2 separate regions of the Homo sapiens genome follow, and region 1 is linked to region 2. A link means that fine-mapping ties the variant in region 2 to the expression of a gene that starts in the linked region. Tissue or cell type: whole blood. Region 2 holds a variant in brackets; the other region holds the start of a gene. All regions are shown on one strand. Distances are between the middles of the regions.

Evidence for each region. PIP is the estimated chance that this variant, and not a neighbour inherited with it, causes the effect.
Region 1: MAPK8IP3 starts here. The variant in region 2 is fine-mapped to the expression of MAPK8IP3 in whole blood (INTERVAL, PIP 0.97). The same link has a PIP of 0.9 or more in monocytes.

The regions. Positions count from the first base shown.
Region 1 is chr16:1,704,212-1,709,515 of GRCh38, reverse strand. It overlaps MAPK8IP3 (mitogen-activated protein kinase 8 interacting protein 3), which reads right to left and starts at 3,321. Exons shown (of 32, transcript NM_001318852.2): 1 at 2,859-3,321. The coding sequence starts at 3,176. RefSeq lists silencers at 2,778-2,827, 2,848-2,957, 3,228-3,567, 4,474-4,768 and an enhancer at 3,126-3,990.
Region 2 is chr16:1,741,542-1,747,294 of GRCh38, reverse strand. MAPK8IP3 (mitogen-activated protein kinase 8 interacting protein 3) reads right to left here. Exons shown (of 32, transcript NM_001318852.2): 5 at 3,819-3,963; 6 at 20-266. Among named protein-coding and RNA genes, the nearest start is that of MIR3177, 9.4 kb to the right of the region's middle. The variant C/T (reference allele first, on the strand shown) is at 2,488.

The DNA of each region.
Region 1 (5,304 bases), 38 kb after region 2:
AACCCGTCAAGGGTTCTGCCCTGACTCTGCTACATCTGCCTGCCCACAATTCTCCAGGCAACCAACAGCCAGTGATGGTGCTTGGATCTTGAGATGAAACTGACTTGCAAAGTCCGCGGCCACTGCAGCCCAGCGAGGGGAAGAGGATGGACCCAGGGTGTGTGGCTCCTGAGGGCCGGGCTGACACTCAGGCTGGGGTCTGCAGACTCCACGGCTTGGGTCAGTCTCTCGGGAGACCCCACCCTCTCTAGCTCCTGTCACTCTCATACACTCAGCTGCCTGTTATCAGAGCACATTGGGAGTCACTGTGGTAATGACCGGCAAGAAGATGGGAACAGGGATGTCTGCTCTGCTCAGGTTTTTATAAAACCCTGCGGATTCTGTCTGCTCAGAAGCTGCAGTGGCTCAGGTTACCCATCTCTGACTAAGCCTTCTTGAGCAGAGTGGCTGGGGACGGAGCTTCTGCTGACAGCTCACCCAGGAGCTCCTCTGCAACAAGACACGCCTGCAGCGTGTGACGTCCCGCTCCCCTCTTATCAGACACACGTCTATGTGATCACAAGTCCCTGCCTAGAAAAGACGCCGACCCACAGGGCACAATGGTCTACAAAGTTGGAAATGAAGGTCTGCTTGATTCAGTAGAGGAGTAGGCATGCCAAATGTTGACAGCATCGAGCCCTCTTCCTTAGTTGTAAAGCCCTGAGGTCTTTCCAAGGGCGCCCCGTTAGCGTTTAATCATAGCCTCCATGCTGGCCAAGCATTGGCTGGCTTCGGGGCTCGGCTCCCGAAGCTCTCGGTGCAGCTTCTCTAAAGCGCTGGGGCAATGGTGGGTCTCAGACTAAAGGTGATAGCTTTGCAAACCACACGCACACCCGCCAGCTTGGTTCAGCAGGAGCCCTGGGGGAGGGCAGATGCACTCACAGCAGCTTGCATGTGAACCGCACAGAGCTGGGCAGCGCCTATCCTGTGCACAGCTCATTTTTAAGCGGCAAGGTTATAATTCCTAGCCTTAACGTTGTCCATCTTGATTTTCTCCTTTCAGTTCCTTCTCGTCCACTATACTGACCACACAGGTACAAGGTGAAAAAAAGAAACCCACCTGAAATCCAGGTCAGGCCACTGAGTGTGGGAGAGCAGTGGAGGGCGGTGCCCAGCACAGGGGGCAGCCACAGCTCCACAGCTGAGCGAGGGCAGCCCTGGCACTCCAGGCTTCTGGGGAGCAGCCCTCCGGTGCCTGCAGCTGCCTGACATGGAAGCAAGTGCCCAGGCCGGTGTCGGGTTCACTCTGCATCCTGGCTGGGCACTTCTGGGGTGGGTGACCTTGGTTCAGCCCCTCCACTTCTCAGGACAAGTTTCCTTCCCAGTAAAATGCCTATAGTCACCCTGAGCTCCAAAATCCATGAACCTTTGCGTTCCCTTAGGTTGAGAGCTTTAACTCAGCTTTGCTGGAACCGGGGCATTCCAATCAATGCATAACCACCTCGCGACAGACACGAAGCCCAAACGCAATAGAAACCACAGGAAAGGAGGAATGATACAACATACTGTTATGATTTTTATAAACACGCTTTAAACCAAACTAGGCCATAAATCACCTTGGTTTCAGAAAAAGCCAAAATACTGACACAATCTTTTATTTTCCTATTAAAGTCAAGAATGTGTTAAGCCGAATTAATTGAAAAGGAATTGAAGCTCATTTCCTAAGACACTTCTATTCATAAGTCAAACAGCATTACCTAACTCCTAGAATGAGAGAATTTCTGGGCTTGGAGATCGCCTAGTGCAATTCACTCCTTTGATGGAAAATCGAACCCCAGGCAGGCGACAGGCCAAGGTCACAGAGGCAAAGCAGGGATGGGAACCAGCCTCCCTGAACCTGTTTCTGACAAAGGGCGAGGTTCTGGGCCCACACACAGGCAGGCCGAGCTCAGTATCTGACGGTGAATGAATGAAGCTAAGTGGTGCTCCCCACAGGGCCCGGCTCTTGTAACTGCTTCACAGACAAGCGATTTCCAGGTTATGGAGACATCCTAGCACAGAATTAAACGCTTCAAACTCAGACTGTTAACTCCTCAGAAGCCAGAGTGGAGTTTCTCAGCCCTGGCTACATCAGCTAACAATCTCGCCAAGCAAGGAACCAAGGGGGCAAAGACATCACCTCCAGAAACTCGAGTGTTCCTTCTGCTGACAGAGGAGCAGCCCGCCTGCGGCCTTGTTCTGTGTTTACATCAACCACCCAATTCACCCGTGTCACAGACCTTCAAAATACGGGATTAGGGACAAGGGAAAGGTCTCCAACATCATCCACAGACGGCTGCAGCCCCCTAAGAACACCAAAAGATTCCTTTTCTAGATGGGTTTAGAATGGCAGCCAACAGAGGTAGCACTTGGGGTCGGGAAACGGTTTTGACTGAACACACGCACGAAAGCAAAGGCAATTGTCATGCAGAGGTGGGTGGGGAGGGGAGAGTGAGGCCTGGCTTTGAAGCTGAGCTCCCCGGGGATGACGCCAGGCACATCGGGTTTGGGGCTGAAGATTCAGGGCTGGGGGCACGGAGGAGGGGGCCAGGGCCCAGGCCTGGGCGGAAAAGGGGGTCCCCGGGAGTCGGGGTGGGGTCCCGGGGCAGGCGGGGGAGTGCTCTAGGGAGGTGTCTCACGGCGGGCAGAGGGGGTGGGGAAGTCCCGGGGCGGGGGATATGGGGTCCAGGCGGGTCTCGGGGCGGGGTCTGGGGGTCCAGGGGTCCCGCGGTCCGGGGTGCCGGAGCGGGGTCTGGGGTCGGGACGGGTGTTGGGTCCGGGGCCCGGGGCTGGCTGGGGGTCCGGGACGGGGATGCGGGCGGGTCCCGCGGCCCACGCACCTCCTCCGCCTGCCTGCGCAGCGCCTTCTCACGCTCGTACTGGGTGAGCAGCTGCTCGTTGTCCTCGCGCAGCAGCTCCAGCTCCACCTCGTGCTCCTGGTTCTCGCTGAGCACCGAGTCTAGGTTCTCCAGCACGTTCACCACCAGCGGCATGAGCTCCTTGACCACCTCCTCGTCGTAGCAGTGGATGAGGCGCTCGAACTCGCGGTAGATGGAGCCCGCCAGGCCCGACACCCGCTCCGACATCACCGAGCCGGAGCAGTAGTCGTCCTGGTACACCACCACGCCGCCGCCCTCGTCCATCTGGATCTCCATCATCGCGGCCACCGCCGCCGCCAGCGCGGCTCGCTATCCGGCCGGCGCGCCCGGCCCTCCCCAGCTGCCTCAGGTTCCGCAGGCCGCAGCCCGTCGCCTCCCGCAGCTGCTGTCGCCTCAGGGCTCCGCCGCCGCCGCTGCCGAGGCTGCGCCCGTCACTCACTCACCGGAAGTCCCGCCCTCCAGCCGGAGGGGGCGGTGCCCGCGCGTCCCGCCGCAGCCGCGCCGCCAGGGGGCGCAGGGGCCGTGACGTCAGAGGAAGCCGGGCTTCGGGCCGGAAGCGCGGGTGAGCCGGGCAGAGGGAGCTCCCGGCCAGGCCGGTGGGATCCGCGGGGCGGCAGTGGTCGCTTCCCCCAGCGCGCTGTAGCTTGATCATGTCCCCGCAACCGTGGGCTTCCGGTGACCTCGATCCCGTCTCCAGGCTCTGCACACTTCGGCGGACTTAGGTGAAGGCTCAGCGCCTGCGCCTCAATCCCGGCCGCCCTGATGAGCCTCCGTTCCCTACAGCACCGCGCCCCGCTCAGTGCCTCCCCTCTCCTGATGCCTTCCCCGCTCAGCTGGCTCCTCCCGGGATTCTGTGAATGCACCCTCAACGCCCATCTCATCCTGAAACCCAGCAGCGTGGCCTCCTTCCTTTCGCCCACTTCTCCCTACTGCACTGACTGCTTCAGATTTTCTTTTTTTTTTTTTTTTTTGAGATGGAGTCTTGCTCTGTCGCCCAGGCTGGAGTGCGGTGGCGCGATCCTGGCTCACTGCAAGCTCCGCCTTCTGGGTTCAAGTGATTCTTCTCCCTCAGCCTCCGGAGTAGCTGGGATTACAGACCAGCTAATTTTGTATTTTTAGTAGAGACGGGGTTTCGCCATGTTGGCCAGGCTGGTCTCAAATTTCTGATCTCAAGTGATCCGCCCGCCTCGACCTCCCAGAGTGCTGGGATGACAGGCGTGAGCCACCGCGCCAGTCCAGATTTTCGGTTACTTTTCAGCTACGTGCAATCTGTTTAACCCATCCACTGGGTTATTAATTGCACCGATTTTTTTTTTTTTGAGACGGTGTTTCGCTCTTGTCGCCCAGGCTGGAGTGTGATGGCGCGATCTCGGCTCACTGCAACCTTCGCCTCCTGGGTCCAAGCGATTCTCCTGCCTCAGCCTCCTGAGTAGCTGGGACTACAGACACGCGCTATTAACGCCCGGCTCATTTTTTTGTATTTTTAGTAGAGACGGGGTTTCACCATGTTGGCCAGGCTGGTCTTGAACTGCTGACCTCAAGTGATCCACCCGCCTCCCTCGGCGTCCCAAAGTGCTGGGATTACAGGCGTGAGCCACTGCACCCTGCCAATGATTCTGTTTTTGTCCTATTTGATTTCTTATATTCTAGCAGTTTTAATAGGCTCTTATACTTCCAACCACATATTTATCTTTAAGCGTTGGGTGTGCCTCATAACTACAGTATCTGCAGCCCTTGCAGGTCTGATTCTGCATGTCATCCTGGTTGACTCTTGGCCCAGGGTCCCCTTTCCCCCATTCTGAGCCAGTGTCCCCAGGACTTTTGTCTCTGGAAGTACTTGAGGCCTGAACTTAAAATGTGTTGCTCCGTAAGATTTGCACTTTATTTTGCTGGGCAGGGGACACCATGAACCCAAGACTTTGAAACTCAATTTGGGAGCCACACATGTATTGTGAATCCTGATGAAACCACATCAGTGACTATTTAATGCTAATAGAAATGGCCACTTACCGTCTTTCACCTACTGCAATGCTCATCAGTTCAGATCCTCTCATCCTAATCTGATTGCACCGAAACAGTAACTCCCGTAGCTGACACCCTACTGATTTTTTTTGTTGTTCAGTTTTTAGAGGCAGGGTCTCACCCTGTTGCTCAGGCTGGAGGCACTGGCATGATCAGGGCTCACTTGAACTCTTAGGCTCAAGTGATCCCACCTCAGCCTCCTAAGTAGTTGGGTCTACAGGTGTAAGCCACCACTGCTTGGCCAATTTTAAAAACATTTTTGTAGAGACAGAGGTCTCACTGTTACTCTGGCTGGTCTTGAACTCCTGGCCTCAAGCGATCCTCCCCCTTGGCCTCCCAAAGTGCTTAGATGACAGGTGTGAGCCACCATGCCAGGCTCTATTGT
Region 2 (5,753 bases):
CCCGGAGGTGGGCACCCACCTATACTGACGTTGCGCATCTCCTGGGTGACCTGTACTTCCATGTTGCGGCTGTCGCGCTTCTCCCGGGCACGCTTGCTGTTCTTGGAGCCCACGCCATAGTCCCCCAGGGGCTGCAGGCTCTCGTTGAGGGGTGTGACGGCGGCCGAGGGCACGGAGGATGTGGGCGTGTTGGACTTGGTGCCTGTGGTGCTGGGTGTGGCGGCCGCCGAGGACTGGCCTGACTCGGACATTTCATCCTGTGGACACTAAGGCCAAACACAGGGAGGAGGGAGAGCGAGTCACTGCAGGTCCCTGGCCTGCGGCTCCGCCGTGGCTGCCTGAGGCCCCGCGCACCAATGCTTTGCACTTTGCCTCGCCCGACACCCTGCGGGCCAGAGCTCCTCTGCCGCCCACCGGGCTAACCCTTCCGGGCCTCACCACTCCCGAGTGGCTCTGCTTATCCGGCCACTGACTCCGGCTCCTCGGAAGCAGGGCCACCCTCCTGAAATGGCTTGGAACGGGGCTTTCCACTGGTGCCCTCCCCAGACGATTGCTTGTAATGGGCCAGTGCCTCGCCAGGGACACAGCGGCAGCCCCCTGTAGCTTGTGGCTGTTCAGAAACAAGTCCAGCCCAGGTAGGGCAGAGGGCTCTGACTGGGGACCCAAGAAGGGCTGGCTGTGCCGCCACCGCTGCCCCGTCACCATCACTGTGCTGAAGAGCTCGAGGCTGGGCCCACCCGCGCCTGCCCCACGTTCCTCCCCGGGCTCAGGTCAGGGCCAGGGAGTGACCAGAAGGTGCTGACCCTGTGGCTTGACTGGACCAGAGCTCACCCCTGAACATGAGCAAGCGCAAAGAAACCACAATCCCTGCTCACAGAAAGGGACGCCACCAAGACATTCTGGAGGGTGGGGGCAGCCCGGATTACGAGAAACCGCAACCAGCCGTCTACCTCAGGAAGCTCGCTAGGGAGGAGCGCATTCTATGTGACTAATGCGGAATGCGAAACAAACATTCTTTCCAATGGTCTTTCCTAACAAAGATACTGAACCAGCTGGAGAAAAAGAGCCCCAAACGTTCTCGTCTTAGCTGACCTGATCACCCGCTATGGCAGAGCTTGCCCGTGGCCCCCGGCCCTCCTTGAGGTGTGGGAAAGTGCAAGGCCTCAGAGGCACCCAGGTGGCTCCTGTGCCTGTCCCAGGCAGCCGCTGGGTGGGTTCCCGTGGTCTCTCAGAGGGCGCACCGTGGGGGACTCTAATGCTAAGGATCTCACCCAGGGAGGAGCTGTCGAGGGGGTATCCAGCCCTCTCCACAGCTGACTTATACTGGCCTTTAAGTGACCAGGGCAGACGGGACTTCCAGAAGTCATGGCCAGTGCTGACCTCTGCCTCTGCCCAGCCTCTCTGGTCACCGCCAGACTCAGGGCACGGGGCCTCTCAGTACCGGACACGGCCACTCACTCAGAGGACACATTTCTGCTTCATCTACCAGGCTCCTAAGTTTCTCTAGAAGGAATCTCAAAATGACACACCTTCCTCTATAGTAGCTATTCTCAGTTGGGCTGACTGCCCCGAGGGGATGCTTGCAAAGTCCAGAGACATTTTTGTGGTCACAAATGAAGGGGGTGCTCCTGGCTTTCGTGGGTGGAAGCCAGGGATGCTGCTCCACACCCACCGCGTCCCAGCGGCCCAGGCCATGCATGTCCAGCCCCAAAAGATGAGCAGTGCCGAGGGAGAGCCCTCACACGGGCGCAGCCCGCCTCCCGGAGTGGCTTTGTAGAAATGTCTGAGACGGCCTGTGGCTCTGCAGCTATGCCCAGTTTGAAAGGAAAACCCTTGCTCTTCATGTCACTCCCCACGCTGGAGGAAGCGAGTACCGCTCATGCAAGAAGTCTGTGCTGACGTTCTCAAAGAACCTGTCTACCCAATGTGTCACAGGCACCTGGTGTCTCACCGACTCTGCCACCACCCGGCAGAGAGAAAACAGGGAACCCCATGTGGCCAGGCAGGGTGTAGCTGTGCACATCAGACAAACGCTTCTGGGCCACCTTCCTCCACGCTGGGTCCCCGGCCTGCTCCTGACCCTCATGGTGGCTGCGGGGAATTCTGCAGTCTGATTGCGCCTCCCCTAGCTCTCCGTCACCCTACAGGGCCACCACTTACCCATGGGACACTCCCCCTGGCCACAACTTACCTAAAGGCAAACCTCTCAACCTCCTAAACATCAACGTGTAGCAGTGACCTCCAAATGCACTGAAAGAACCCAAACTCTTAGCGGTCATTCCTCACCATGAGTAGCCACAACTGTTTGGTTAAAACACTGAAAATACAGTACATAAAAACAAAAACAAAACAAAACAAAAAACAACAAAAAAATTAAGAAATTAGAAAAACTTCAAAACCTAGAGCATAAAATAAAAAGAACTTAAATGTAATAATTTAAAATAAAGAAAAATCAAATAAAACACTCCTATGAACGAAAACATAAAA[C/T]GCTACAATTTATGAAGAGAGCGACGATGTCAGACAACGCAGGAGGTGAAAGGAAAGACATCATGAGAAGAAGAGCGGGCCCAGAGCGGGCGCGAGAGGCAGCCCGGAGGCCAGAGAGCGTCAAGCAAGGGCTCCCCCCGGCTGAGGCTGACGTGTCTTCAGATGCCTATGGGCAGGTCCCAGCTCCAGGCCCGGGAAGCGTGAGCCAGAGACAGTGAGAGGAGGTGGGCCCAGGTGGCAGGGCTGGGCCCAGAAGGCCCGGGGAGCCCGCAGCCCCGCCACCCTCTCTCCAGCCCTGAGCACAGGGAGGACAGGAGAGCGTTCCAGATGCCATGAGGGAGCTCGCTCCCAGAGCAGCGCAGCAGCAGGTGGGCTGACGGAGCAGGAGCCTGCAGCAGCCCCCACAGGCACGATGGACACTTAGAGGTGGAAGGACAGTCGGCAAAGCATGCAGCAGGAAGTAAGCTTCTGGAGAAGTCCCAGGCCCCACATCCACCAGCCCAACCCAGCCCACAGGCCCCAAGGGCTCTGCCTCTGTGGACATCCTCTGACGGCCCCTGTGGGAAATCCACCAGACCCGGGGTCACCTCTTCTTCCCAGGAAGGTGGCTGTCCTTACCTGGCACTGAGGCCAGTGAGCTCACAGGCCAAAACTGGCAGCAAGCGACCTGGGGCCCTGAAGGAGTGGCCTGGCTCTGGGCCCCTGTGCTCTGAGGTGCACTCACCGGCTGGCTGTGAGAACCTGCTGGGGCCCCCGCACTCTGGCTGTGAGTACCTGCTGGGGCGAGGCTCTGCTTTCTCAAACTCAGGACCCAGGAGGCGTTACCAGGGACAGGCAGGGAGGGGCCCAGAGAAGAGGAGCTTTCTCCTCACCTTTCTGCCAACGGAGGGCAAACCCCACACTCTAGACACTGACGTTCCTCCGAGAGTAGAGGCGTGGCTCTCAGGGGCAGGATGTGTCTGGCTGGAGCCCGGGTGAGCATGAGGCTTTATGTGGGGGTGTGGTTTGAGAGAGGATCACTAAGCTCAACCCTGACAGGCACTGTACACCCCTGGCTACAGAGCGGTCTATCCAAGGGCAGGGAGGTCTAGCCTGGACTAGCAGGTGCCGACACGAGGCCGCGTGGAACAGCCACAGCCACACAGGGCCTGCTGGGCAGCCTGAGCCCCTGACACCCTGGCTGGGTTTCTCCATCCTGCCACACACGAAGGGAGAGGGCGAGTGGCCCAGAGAGCCGTGAAGGGCTGCCTGCAGACGAGGCTCCCGCCCCAGTGAACGGGGAACACCAGCAACAGGGAGGAGCCTCTCACTCCACGGCACGGCTACAAAACCTGGTAGCTGGAGCTGGACTGCAGCTGGCCGAGGTCACTCAGGTGCCAGTGGTCCCCCGCAGGCACGAGCTTGCCCCCGATCTGTGCACGTACCGTGCCGTCAGCCAGGGGGAACACGTTCAGGGAGGTGGGGCGCTCCTTCCTGCTGAAATGGGGGGCGAGAGGAGAGGAAGCGATGGTTAGAGGGTGGCCGTGAAGATTTCCCAAGCCCTCCCAGGGCAAGCAGACCTCGAGTGATGGGGCCGCTCCATGCCAGCCAGCAGCCCAGCTCGAGCAGCTACTCAGTTATGATCCTACGTGGCGCTTCCCCTCCCATGATGCTGCAGTTTCTCATTTTTATTAAGTTCAATTTTATTTTATTTTATTTTATTTTATTTTTTTTGAGGCGGAGTCTCGCTCTGTCACCCAGGCTGGAGTGCAGTGGCACGAACTTGGCTCACTGCAAGTTCCACCTCCCAGGTTCACGCCATTCTCCTGCCTCAGCCTCCCACGCCTGGCTAATTTTTTTTTGTATTTTTAGTAGAGACGGGGTTTCACCGTGTTAGCCAGGATGGTCTCGATCTCCTGACCTGATGATCCGCCTGCCTCGGCCTCCCACAGTGCTGGGATTACAGGCGTGAGCCACCGCGCCCGGCCTAAGTTCAATTTTAAACAGACACAAGCCGGGTGTGCTTTAGACACCCCACAGCAGAGCCAGCCACGGGACTTGGCATCACGGTCAGCGCTGCACGGCCACCATGAGCAATGCCTTTTAGGACCATTGTCTTATGTGTGCCCAGCCCTGCCTCCCTGTGGTGTTACTGCCAGCCCTGCCTGTTCCCCTGGCGCCAGCAGAGGGAATCCAGCCTTCCTGCCCCTGTGCCTTGTTCCTTGGCCCCTCCTGCCCATCCTCATTACTCCTGTTCATGAGGCTGCCTCACTGCAAAATATCTGAACACGACACATCCAGAGTAAGGACTGACCCCGTCTCATCTGCTGCAGCCGGAGCCTGAGCCTGAGGGGCGTCTTCTCCCTCCCCACGTGTCCTCTCTGCTGTCAGGGAGCCCCGAACCTGAAGACGGACCCTGGGACAGCCTGGCCTCGGACAGCCTGGCAAGACAGTGGGAGCGCCTGGGAGCTGGAGCTGTCAGGACAGTGCTCAGTGCCCCCTGCTGTGGGCTCAGTCCCTAGGGATGACCTCCTGTGGGCCATAAGCAAGAGCAGGGATGGAGCCCAAGGTCTCCCTTTACGTCCTCCTCCGCGGGAGGTTTCCAGTCAACAGCCCAGAGGTCCCAGAGGCCAGGCTGGCTCCTCACCTCCTCAGGTCTGGGGGGCAGGCCACGTGGTCAGATGCTGGAGCCCACACTGCTCAGGGCTATTCAGGACAAGAATTAAGAGTCTGCTTGCACCACAGCCTCAGCTGCTTACATCTCAGCCCTGAGACTGTAGGAGGGAAGGGAGCTTCCTCAGGGGTTCAAGGAACCTGCTCTGGCCATGCCTGGAGGATGCAGACGGCGACAGGGGAACGCAGCAGCCGCCGCTGACCAGGAGCTCCGCTACCTGGGTGGGGAGCTATGAAGAATGACCCTGGGAAGGGGTCTCTTTGTGGGGTGCATACAGCTCTGGGGACTGGCCGCCTGCTCTGTTATGTTCAGGACAACACCGTATCCTGTAGCACGAGGGAACCAGGGCCGGCTGGGACTGGGCTGTGCCATCTTGGCTGCTGGTCCATGGCACTCAAGCTGTTGTGACAACAGCCATGAGGTTCCCTGGCCACCGTGAAGGCAGCCAGCCACCAGGCCCAGGGAGCATGACCCCAGTGGGAGGCTGGGCTTCAACCGCCCTGTCTGCACCAGGGGCCTCCTGGCCCCACTTCCACTGCGCTCCCAACGCTGGTGCGGGGAGCGCCTCTGCTGAGGCCCAGTTCTGACGCCATCAGACACGTCTCAGTCCCTA